Homo sapiens: one gene and its partners. The protein of the gene in region 1 purifies or fractionates together with the protein of each later gene. This does not show direct contact. Each region holds a gene or a part of one and is shown on either strand. Other genes may lie near its edges. The genes, in order: DACT3, KCTD3 and SLC38A2.

Region 1 (4,281 bases):
TGACCAACATGGTGAAACCCCGTCTCTACAAAAAATACAAAAATTAGCTGGGCGTGGTGGCGCGTGCCTGTAATCCCAGCTACTCAGGAGGCTGAGGCAGGAGAATCGCTTGAACCTGGGTGGCAGAGATTGCAGTGAGCTGAGATCATGCCACTGCACTCCAGCCTGGGTGACAGAGCGAGACTTCGTCTAAAAAATAAATAAATAAATAAATAAATAAATAAATAGATAAATAAATAAACCAGGATAAATAAGTAAAATATCTAGGGTACGAAATAATGCCATGTGCTATGACAAGAAATAAGCCGGGGAAAGGGACTCAGAAGTGTCCCTTTGAGTTTGGGGAGGGAAGTGCAATTTTAGAAAATATGGCTGGGGAGGGCTTCACTGAGACTGTAACATTTGAGTTGTGCCCTGAACTAAGTGGGGGAGTGGACCTAGCAGATATCCAGAAGGAAGAGCATTCCGGGCATCTGGAATCTGGAATGGGAAGCAGAAAGGCTCTGAGGCCAGAATGTGACTGGCGCCTGCTTTCAGGAGGCCAGTGTGGCTGGAGTCCTATAAGTAGAGGAGAAGGGTCAGCTCAGTGGTTCATGCCTGTAATCCCAGCACTTTAGGAGGCTGAGGCGGGAGGATTATTTGAGCCTGGGAGCTGGAGACTAGACTGGGCAACACAGTGAGACCCCATCCCTACAAAAAATAAAAAAATCAGCAGGGCATGGTGATGCGTTCCTGTAGTCCCAGCCGTTCAGGAAGATAAGGCGAGAGGATCCCTTGAGCCCAGGAGCTGGAAACTGCAGTGAGCTATGATTGCGCCACTGCACTCCAGCCTGGGTGACAGAGCAAGCAAGAACCTGTCTTAAAAAAAAAAGGCCAGGCGCAGTGGCTCACACCTGTAATCCCAGCACTTTGGGAGGCCGAGGCGGGAGGATCACGAGGTCAGGAGATCGAGACCATCCTGGCGAACACGGTGAAACCCCGTCTCTACTAAAAATACAAAAAAATTAGCCGGGCGTGGTGGCGGGCGCCTGTAGTCCCAGCCACTCAGGAGGAGAATGGCATGAACCCGGGAGGCGGAGCTTGCAGTGAGCCGAGATCGGGCTACTGCACTCCAGCCTGGGCGACAGAACGAGACTCCGTCTCAAAAAAAAAAAAAAAAAAAAAATAGGGGGTAAGATGTTGTGAGAGTTGGAGAGGCAGAGGCAGAGGCAGGACAAGTCACGCAGGGTCTTGTAGGACCCTGTAAAGATTTTATTATGAATTTTACAAGAAGGAAGGTGTGAGAGCAGGGTTTTTGCTGCGATGAGGATGGAAGGGAGGGAGGCAACCCGCCCCTTCCGGGCTGGATGAGAAATGGGAAAGGACTTTGAGAGCCCCTCCACTCTCTCTTTTTTTTTTTTTTTTGGCCTTCCTTCCCTAGGAGACGCCAGTCCCAGCGCTCCGGAGGTGGTGGGCGCGCGGGCAGCGGTGCCGCGGTCCTTCTCAGCGCCCTACCCGACGGCAGGGGGGTCCGCCGGCCCGGAGGCCTGCTCCTCGGCGGAGCGGCGGGCCCGCGCCGGGCCCTTTCTGACGCCCAGCCCCCTGCACGCCGTGGCGATGCGCAGCCCGCGGCCCTGCGGCCGCCCTCCCACCGACTCGCCCGACGCGGGGGGCGCAGGGCGGCCCCTGGACGGCTACATCTCGGCGCTCCTGCGCAGGCGCCGCCGCCGGGGGGCGGGCCAGCCCCGGACCAGTCCCGGGGGCGCGGACGGCGGCCCGCGGCGCCAGAACAGCGTGCGCCAGCGGCCGCCCGACGCGTCTCCGTCCCCCGGCAGCGCGCGACCCGCGCGGGAGCCCTCGTTGGAGCGCGTCGGGGGCCACCCCACCAGCCCTGCCGCCTTGAGCCGCGCCTGGGCGTCGTCGTGGGAGTCGGAGGCGGCACCCGAGCCCGCTGCGCCGCCCGCCGCCCCCTCACCCCCCGACAGCCCGGCTGAGGGCCGCTTGGTGAAGGCGCAGTACATCCCGGGCGCGCAGGCGGCCACCCGAGGCCTCCCTGGCCGCGCCGCCCGCCGCAAACCGCCGCCACTGACCCGCGGCCGCAGCGTGGAGCAGTCACCACCCCGGGAGCGTCCCCGGGCCGCCGGCCGCCGTGGACGCATGGCCGAGGCTTCGGGCCGCCGCGGCTCGCCCAGGGCCCGCAAGGCCTCGCGCTCCCAGTCTGAGACCAGCCTGCTGGGCCGCGCCTCCGCGGTCCCTTCGGGGCCCCCTAAGTACCCCACGGCGGAGCGGGAAGAGCCTCGGCCTCCACGGCCACGCCGCGGCCCAGCGCCCACGCTGGCGGCCCAGGCCGCAGGGTCCTGCCGTCGCTGGCGCTCCACTGCGGAGATCGACGCTGCCGATGGGCGCCGCGTGCGGCCCCGAGCCCCTGCGGCGCGTGTTCCCGGCCCCGGCCCGTCCCCGTCAGCTCCCCAGCGTCGTCTGCTTTACGGCTGCGCGGGCAGCGACTCCGAGTGCTCGGCTGGGCGCCTGGGGCCCCTGGGACGCCGGGGGCCTGCGGGAGGCGTCGGCGGGGGTTACGGGGAGAGCGAATCGAGCGCCAGCGAGGGAGAATCGCCTGCCTTCAGCTCTGCCTCCAGCGACTCAGACGGCAGCGGTGGCCTCGTGTGGCCGCAGCAGCTGGTGGCGGCCACCGCGGCCTCTGGGGGTGGAGCAGGTGCAGGGGCGCCCGCAGGCCCCGCCAAAGTCTTCGTGAAAATCAAAGCTTCCCACGCGCTCAAGAAAAAGATACTGCGTTTCCGTTCGGGTTCTCTCAAGGTCATGACTACAGTGTGAGTTTGGGGATTTGCTTGGGCTCCCCCTTCATGGCCTCTGCACCTCCACACTCCCAACCACTGACCCTTCCACATCTACCTTCCAAAGACCATCGTTTTCTCTGCTTCCAAAGACCCCCCTCACTCTCCCCACTCCTAACAGTCTTGGTTGAAAAGGCTCCCCCACCACCACCGAGAGGAATGGGGAGGAGCCCTGTTTGACCCAGTTCAGCTTCTAGCTTGGAAGCCCTTGGGCAAGACAGTTCCCCTTCTCTGGGCGTCACTTTCCTCATCTGTACAGTAAGTGTCCATGTATGCAAAAGGGGTAATTCGGTTTGAATTTCCCCGTTTTAGTTTAGAAGCCTAGTCTGTTTGTTCCCCTCCACCGCTCTCCCTCTCATTCCTGATGAGCCCTCTCATTCCTCCTTTCCTTGCCCAGCTATGGCCCCCTCTCATTCACAAAGTGCCCCCTCCATGTCCCTGGACCCTTAAGATATCCCCTTGGCACCCTGGTCAGAGACTCTGTGTCTGACTCAGGTGGTCCCTGCAGAGTGCCCTGGGAAGGGAAGGAGCACTGATTTGGGGGTTTTGAGGGTCAAGTAGGGGTTGGTAACACCTGGAAAGAAGGACTCTTTCACTTCGATCCCTGGACAATTATGGAGGATTCGGAGGTAGAAGAGGGGAAGGAAGATGGTTTCTATCTCATGACCCCCACTCCCTGTGAGAGGGAATGGGGGAAGCCTGATGACCCTCAGCTGTTCCAATCTAGTATTTTTTTTCTTTTTTAAAATTACTGTATTTATTATGACGATGGTGACTCCCCAGTGCAAAGGGGGGCCAGATTCTGTGTGTTTCTCTAACCTCTTTGTAAATAAATGCACAGTGTAACATATGTGGTGGACTCTCACTGAATGATTAAATGGGAGAAATGCTCTTTTTCCTTTGGACTAACATTTATTGAGCAACTTCTGTTTGCTGTGGATATGGCAGTTTCCAGGGAGGTCCCAGGGTGAATCTCAACATCATCTTCCTACCATTGGCTATTTTACATCAAGGAATCTAACCTTTGATTGGGTTATGTTTGGTTATAAATACGATTTCAGGCGGGATGTGATGGCTCATGCCTATAATCCCAGCACTTTGGGAGGCAGGGGTAGGGGGATATCTTGAGCCCAGGAGTTCAAGACCAGCTTGGGCAACATGGTAAAACCCCATCTCTACAGAAAATACAAAAATTAGCTGGGTGTGGTAGGTCATTCCTGAACTATCAGCTGCTCAGGAGGCTGAGGTGGGAGAATCATGTGAGTCTGGGAGGCCCAGGCTGCAGTGAGCCATGATTGTGTCACTGCACGCCAGCGTGGATGACAAGCAAGACCCTGTCTCAAAAAACAAAAAAATATGGTTTCACAAAAATGGGAACAGCATGGGAAACAGACAGCCCCTAAATCCCCTCTCTGACGGTCATCATAATCAGCAGTTCGATGTGCATCCT
Region 2 (3,649 bases), on another chromosome or scaffold:
AATAATCAGGCCAAGTATAATAAGACTAAAGCTTATTTTGCAAACAAATCAGTCCTACCATGATTTCTTTAGTAAAAATGAAAGACTGAAAATAGGAAAATTGTTTCAAAAACTATGGTATGCTTTTTATTAGATTTGTCTCATCAGTAGTTTTTGAGTTCTTTCTGCAATTTGGACTCATCCTGCTTATCCTTGTGGACCAAGCAGTGATCTGTGGCTGCTGTTCAGAAGAAACAAGAGGCATGGGTAACACAGAAATCTGGATCAGTATTCTAATTGTGGGCATGTATTGGAATTGGCTAGCACATCAGCTTGGTTCCAACTCCATATCAGCTTGGTTACAACAATTTCCCAGTTCATGAAAAGCCTTCTTATTTAGTTTACTTGGGATAATTTTACTTATTTTGCCTTGTTATTGTAGAATATACTGCTGTTGTTCTCTTTGTGTAGGAATGCAAGATAAGCTTACTCAGTGCTTTCTTAAATCGAACACTTATTAATTTTTCAGTCATCACTTTTTGTCAGAAATCAGAGTTCTCACCATACTGACAGTTTCTAACTGAGCTCTCCTCTACTCTGAATGCAGAAGACCCTAATAGGCAGAAATACCATCATCCCTATTCAGACTGCAGAAGTTACAGAAGATGAATCTTCCTCCCTCTGAAACCCTTAGGATTAAGAGTACCCTTGTAAAAGGGAAGGGGAAAACATGTCAGAGGTGTTCAAACCAGAGTTGAATGGGGACTGAGTAAAATAAGGCTGAGACCTGCTGGGCTGCATTCCCAGGAGGTTAGGCATTCTTAGTCACAGCGTAACAAGGAAGGTCAGCACAAGGTAAAGGTCACAAAGATCCCGCTGACAAAACAGGACGGAGTAAAGAAGCCAGCCAAAACTGAAACCAAGATGGCAACAAAAGTGACCTCTGGTCGTCCTCACTGCTCATTATACGCTAATTATAATGCATTATCATGCTAAAAGACACTCTCACCAGCCCCATGATAGTTTACAAATGACATCTAATGTCTGGAAGTTACCCTATATGGTCTAAAAAGGGGAGGAACATTCAGTTCTGGGAATTGCCTGCTCCTTTCTGAAACACTCATGAATAATCCACCCCTTATTTAGTATATAATCAAGAAATAACTGTAAGTATACTCAGTCAAGCAGCCCTCAGGGCTGCTCTGGCTATGGAGTAGCCATTCTTTTATTCCTTTACTTTCTTAATAAACTTGGATTCACTTAAAAAAAAAAACTATATAATCTCATCTTTTACAGACATATTACTTCTAAGTTGTTTTTCTCTATAGTAATTAGGGTATTACACAATAAAGAGATGTCAAAAAAGGATAAAAGAATCAGGACAGCATATTTAAAAATAACTATAACAACTACAGAATTTAACTCTTAATAAGATATGTGAATTTACCTGTTTTTTAAAAAATTACAAAGAAGGTACATATTTGCTCTATAACTTTCCATACAAGTAATACATTTAAAATATGTAGAACAAGGCCAGGCACAGTGGCTCACGCCTGGAATCCCAGCACTTTGGAAGGCTGAGGCGGGTGAATCACTTGAGATCAGGAGTTTGAAAACAGTCTGGCCAACATGGTGAAACCCCGTCTCTACTAAAAATACAAAAATTGGCCAGGTGTGGTGGTGCACACCTGTAGTCCCAGCTACTCAGGAGGCTGAGGTGGGAGAATTGCTTGAACCCAGGAGGCAGGTGTTGCAGTGACCCGAGATCACGCCACTGCACTCTAGCCTGGGTGACAGTGCAAGACTCTGTCTCAAAATCTCAAAAACAAAACAAAACAAAAAATATATAATAATAAATAAAACAAAATATAAAACAAGAATATGCTCTGTTATTTCACCTCTCCATCATCTTACTGCTGCCTAGTGAACCAACCCTCTGGTTAAGACAGCTATGCGAAGAATAGAGTTACGTCTAGTTATTTCCTACATGAAGACCTCAATAAAATACAGTAGAGAGGACATGCCCTGTGAGATTTTGAAACTTATTATGAACATACTTCACCTCAAGTTGTATGAGAATAGACATATGTCTTAAGGAAATGAGAGAACTGAAAAACAGATCCAAGTATATACACACACATAAAGCAAGATAAAATGGGCTATCAGATTCACTGACAAAGAATGATTTACGTAATAAATTGTCAGAACATAATTACCTACCCACTGAGAAGAAAATAAATCCTTAAATCTCATACCACATACAAAAAAGTAAACTCCACAAGGATTAAAGATCTAAAGTGGAATATAAGCCCCAAGGGGGCAGCAATTCACACAACTACTCTTCGTTAATAGAAGTAACACTGTCATAAACTCAGCAAGAAAAAGGGACATAAACATAAAACCTAACCATGTAGAAAATTAGTGAAGCTAGGAGAACATCATACAGGTCTTCACTGTACTACTCTTTTTTTAAAGGTTTTGTAACTTACTGATACAAAAACTTGAGGAAAAATAACTTGTAAAAAAGATTACACTTTTAAACAGTTTAAATATTTTTCTTTCTTTTGAAATCTTTTTATTGCCATTGTGTTGAATGATTTAACTATATGTGAGGAAATCCAAATATGTCCTCAATTGTCTTCCTTCGTCACTTTACATGAGTATATTGCTCTGAAATGTCAGACACTTGGTGAAAGCACAGAAAGATCGTGATCAATGCAAACGCAAAGACTGGAAAATGTAATAGCATCATCCTCCATACAATTATTACCCAGTGAGTTAAATTTTGCGTAATAATGTGGTGGTTCTGGAAAAGAGCAATCTTTAGTATTGTGTACAGTAACAAAACGGAAGTTATGCTGTTACACTTGGATCACTTATCATTTCACAATTCTTCTGGAATTCCTTATTGACAAAAATATGTACATAATATGTAAACAAGGGTCTACAAGTCACCTCAATTCAAATATATAAGATGATAAATTCAAAACAATGCTTCCTAAAAAAAAATTACTTTACCAAATTAGTCTTGCCTCATACAAAACCATCCCCAAAGAAATTATGCAAAAAACAATTTCCATGCTATTTCATAATTAAAATTACAAATCCACAAAACACTTTTTTTAAAAATTTGTTTATTTATTTATTGAGACAGAGTCTTGCTCTGTTGCGCAGGTTGGAGTACAATGGTGAGCTATCAGCTCACTGCAACCCCCACCTCCTGGGTTCAAGTGATTCTCCTGCCTCAGCCTCCCGAGTAGCTGGGATTACAGGCATGCATCACCACACCTGGCTAATTTTTGTATCTTCAGTAGAGATGGGGTTTCACCATGTTGGTCGGGCTGATCTTGAACTCCACCCATCTCGGCCTCCCAAAGTGCTGGGATTACAGGCGTGACCCACCGTGCCCAGCCAAAACACTCTTAAAACATAAAAGTCTGCACTTAATCATTACTACAAGGAAAATATAAACCTGAGATTACTGATATAAACAGCACTTACCAGACATGCCAAACCTTTCATAAATTCAGATTTTTAAAAAAAAAATACATCTGGGATTCTTTAAACTATATCTGTAAACTTTAGAAGACATTTTAGATATTTTTCAGCTTATTGTGACTATTTTTCTTAACCGAACTCAACAGTGATAAACAAATAGTTTATGTATCTT
Region 3 (3,649 bases), on another chromosome or scaffold:
TATAAAATCACCTTTAGGCTATGGGTTTAAGAAGGTGTATAGGAAACATAAGTGAATTTTGTGTTTAGACTTCAGTGCCATCTCCAAGATACTTCAAATATGTATGTGCAGGTACTCCAAAGTCCAAAACACTTCGGTCCCAAGCATTTTGAATAAGGGATACTCAACATGTGCCAGAAAATGTTTGGGCATGCTATAGAAACCATTTTCTTCTAGCAAAGTTACTCATCCCAGTGAACTCACAGGTATTTATCTAAAGTAAACATGGGGAAGGATAATTTACTTCCCACCCTATGTGCAGCTCATTACGTCAAAATAGAGAAGTGCTGTTATCTCAGATGTGGCTTTAGAAATTTAATTTTTTAAGCTGATCTTTAAGTGTTGGTGTTCTGCAGAGTGCTTACTGCTGAAGTGAACAGAATTCATGAGGCAATTAGAATTTGAAAATAGTGATTTAGAAGACAGTGCAATTCATGATTTACCTAAAAAGAAAAAGGCTTAGAGGATATACATAATGTTTTCTAAAGTTCAAAAGGGATATTTTTGGCTGTCTTTGGAGTTAAAGGTGGGTCAAGATGTCACAACATACTCTGATAACCTGGAATAAGTCCTGGTTTGGGGGACTGAGTTTTATAATTTTTTTTATGGGGGGGGCAGTTTGCCTGTGCATTTTATGAAAACGTTTCCTCATTGAAATATTTAATAATATTTGCTAACGCATCTGGAAAAAAACTTGTTTTAAAATTTTTTAGTTTCCAGCATTAGAAATTACATGCTAAAGCTGTACCAAAGTTGGTGTACAATTTTTCTGAAAGTGCTTAAAGATAAGATTACTGGCTTAACAAACAAGCTTTGTTCCCTGCATTAGTATCAAGTCTTTGAGAAGCATTTTGTGTTATGAATCAGCTGGCAGCCTTCCCAGAGCAAGTAGTGGGACAAAAGTTACACTGTTTTATACCCGACTTCTAACCTGAGTAAATGTTCATCTAGCACACAAAATTAAAAAGTTATTCCTATCTTGAACAGGGGAAACTTTTTCCAAACATGTCTTTTTTGTGTGTTTGTTTTCATGGTATTCCTATGAAATGAGTCCTGTTAGAAGATGTGTATATTTTTCAGAGGATATTTGTGACTGTTTTGACCTTGTTTCTGTTTTCTTTAGATTGTGGTATCTGAACGGGAACTATTTGGTTCTGTTGGTGTCATTGGTGGTCATTCTTCCTTTGTCGCTGTTTAGAAATTTAGGTGAGCAAACTCATCTCTAAAGAGAATTGAAATGAGCCTCTCACCAGTTAGTTGGGCTTTCTCTGAATAGAAATTAATCAGAATGAAAAAGCCCTAGAAAGTAGAAAGGTATATCTTTGGGACTTACAGCATGCAAAATTTAGGAGCCAAAATATTTAATTGACACTATATGTTGTGCTTTGTAAGAAATAATGCAAATGATAGTTTTTATTAGCTTGGGTTATGACAAGTATATTTAAATAAATCTATAATTTAGTATCATAAGAATTAGAAATTTAGTGCTATACACATACTTTAGTGCCTAAAGTCTTCCCAGCAGAATTGAGTTATTCAGTGGGAAAAAGATATTTGCCTTAAATCTGTTTCATTAAACTAATACTGATTCCTGCCACCCCTCCTTATAGGATATTTGGGATATACCAGTGGCCTTTCCTTGTTGTGTATGGTGTTCTTTCTGATTGTGGTGGGTATGATTTTTTTTTTAGAAAAAATTTTTTATAAGCCCTGCCATGTCACTTAGTTTAACACATGCAAAATAATATATTTTTAGGTCATTTGCAAGAAATTTCAGGTTCCGTGTCCTGTGGAAGCTGCTTTGATAATTAACGAAACAATAAACACCACCTTAACACAGCCAACAGCTCTTGTACCTGCTTTGTCACATAACGTGACTGAAAATGACTCTTGCAGACCTCACTATTTTATTTTCAACTCACAGGTAACTAAATATGCTTATTTTCTCAAAAGAAGAGTTTAGGGAAGAAAAGAGGGAAGCTATTCACTCCCAGGGTAAAGGGAGGAGGATAATAGGTGCTTTATAGAAAACATGTGATTAGCTAATTATTGAGGACTGTGAAGAAAGTTTTGGTTTACATCTGAAAATAGATTGAGAATTGAGATAATCATATGGTGCTAATAATTGACACATTCAGAAGTGAGGATATTGATCATACTTCATGAACAGATTAGAAGAATGGAAGCTAATTACACAAAGGAAACTTAGGCTTTGATTCTAAGATTGTTTACATAAAATATATGCTGCGGAAATGTGACAGCATGAGTTCGTTACATCAGATTAAGTAGATTTTTACGTTTTCTTTCAGACTGTCTATGCTGTGCCAATTCTGATCTTTTCATTTGTCTGTCATCCTGCTGTTCTTCCCATCTATGAAGAACTGAAAGAGTGAGTATTTCATTTTTACATAAATTTGAGAAAATATTAGACAATTGCTGTAACTGCTGCTGAAATATATATTTGAATTTTCTCTTGAATTACATAGCCGCAGCCGTAGAAGAATGATGAATGTGTCCAAGATTTCATTTTTTGCTATGTTTCTCATGTATCTGCTTGCCGCCCTCTTTGGATACCTAACATTTTACGGTAAGTAACGCCTCCTTTACCAAAACAAAAACAAAAACAAAAAAAAACGCTTATTGAAATGAAGCTGCTAGTTTTCTATGTGTAGTTCCATCACTTTAAAAATAGTCTGTTTTAATATATTTCATATTTGTGATGAGAAATTAAATTTAGAGCTTAGAATTTTCTGTAGTGTATTTAATCAGTAATTTCTAGAATCCAGGTTTGAAAATATCATTAATCATTTGATGGCATATTTGTATGATATGCCAGCCTCTGAGTTCATATTGCCTGTCTCCTCTCCCATCACCTTCAGACTATGTAACACAAACACAAATTGCAAGCCAAGCCAGGAGATTTAGCTGCTTAACTCCTGTTGTTTTTAATGGGAGTCATGTGGCTAAATCTCTGTGGTATTTAGAAAAATTTTCCTTCAATGTTACTTTAATTGCATTAACTATAATTCCAAACAAATCTTATTAGCCTCTTAGTTTATAGTCGTTTTGTGAGTAGCTAAATAACTGGTGCACATTTTGCTGTTAAATTTTCTACTTGGTGTCCAATGAAAACAGCCAATCAAAGTTTTTTTGGTCTTTCCCTGTAGAACATGTTGAGTCAGAATTGCTTCATACCTACTCTTCTATCTTGGGAACTGATATTCTTCTTCTCATTGTCCGTCTGGCTGTGTTAATGGCTGTGACCCTGACAGTACCAGTAGTTATTTTCCCAGTAAGTAATCACTTGCTCTGCTTTCAGTAGGAAGGAGTTTTTAGACATGTGAATATTGGTGAGATTTTCATCTTCTGGAAGAAGGGAAACACCAGTAGAACAATACTAAGTTGGTGGTGGTTTTGAAGGGGCTTTTTAAAAATACAGTGTATATTTTCAAAATACCCTGGGGACATTTTTTTCACCATAAGATATAAAATGATCTTTAAGTGTTCAGATGTTCAGGAAACAGCAGAGAAAGAGGCACAGTTTTATTTAGAAATAGTTACTATTTTGGATAGATTCCTTGTTACTTGGGCATTCTTTTCATTCATTGAA

The links.
Region 2: the proteins of DACT3 (region 1) and KCTD3 purify together in Homo sapiens (affinity purification with mass spectrometry, with the first as the bait; one large-scale study listed by BioGRID). This does not show direct contact.
Region 3: the proteins of DACT3 (region 1) and SLC38A2 purify together in Homo sapiens (affinity purification with mass spectrometry; one large-scale study listed by BioGRID and IntAct). This does not show direct contact.

The regions. Positions count from the first base shown.
Region 1 is NC_000019.10:46,647,012-46,651,292, reverse strand, and holds the end of DACT3 (dapper homolog 3), read left to right. Parts: intron 1-1,420; coding exon 1,421-2,811; 3' UTR 2,812-3,742; downstream 3,743-4,281. UniProt on the Homo sapiens protein: May be involved in regulation of intracellular signaling pathways during development. Specifically thought to play a role in canonical and/or non-canonical Wnt signaling pathways through interaction with DSH (Dishevelled) family proteins.
Region 2 is NC_000001.11:215,580,723-215,584,371, reverse strand, and holds part of KCTD3 (BTB/POZ domain-containing protein KCTD3), read right to left. Parts: intron 1-3,649. UniProt on the Homo sapiens protein: Accessory subunit of potassium/sodium hyperpolarization-activated cyclic nucleotide-gated channel 3 (HCN3) up-regulating its cell-surface expression and current density without affecting its voltage dependence and kinetics.
Region 3 is NC_000012.12:46,362,703-46,366,351, reverse strand, and holds part of SLC38A2 (sodium-coupled neutral amino acid symporter 2), read left to right. Parts: intron 1-1,162; coding exon 1,163-1,245; intron 1,246-1,649; coding exon 1,650-1,708; intron 1,709-1,795; coding exon 1,796-1,963; intron 1,964-2,348; coding exon 2,349-2,428; intron 2,429-2,525; coding exon 2,526-2,626; intron 2,627-3,206; coding exon 3,207-3,331; intron 3,332-3,649. UniProt on the Homo sapiens protein: Symporter that cotransports neutral amino acids and sodium ions from the extracellular to the intracellular side of the cell membrane.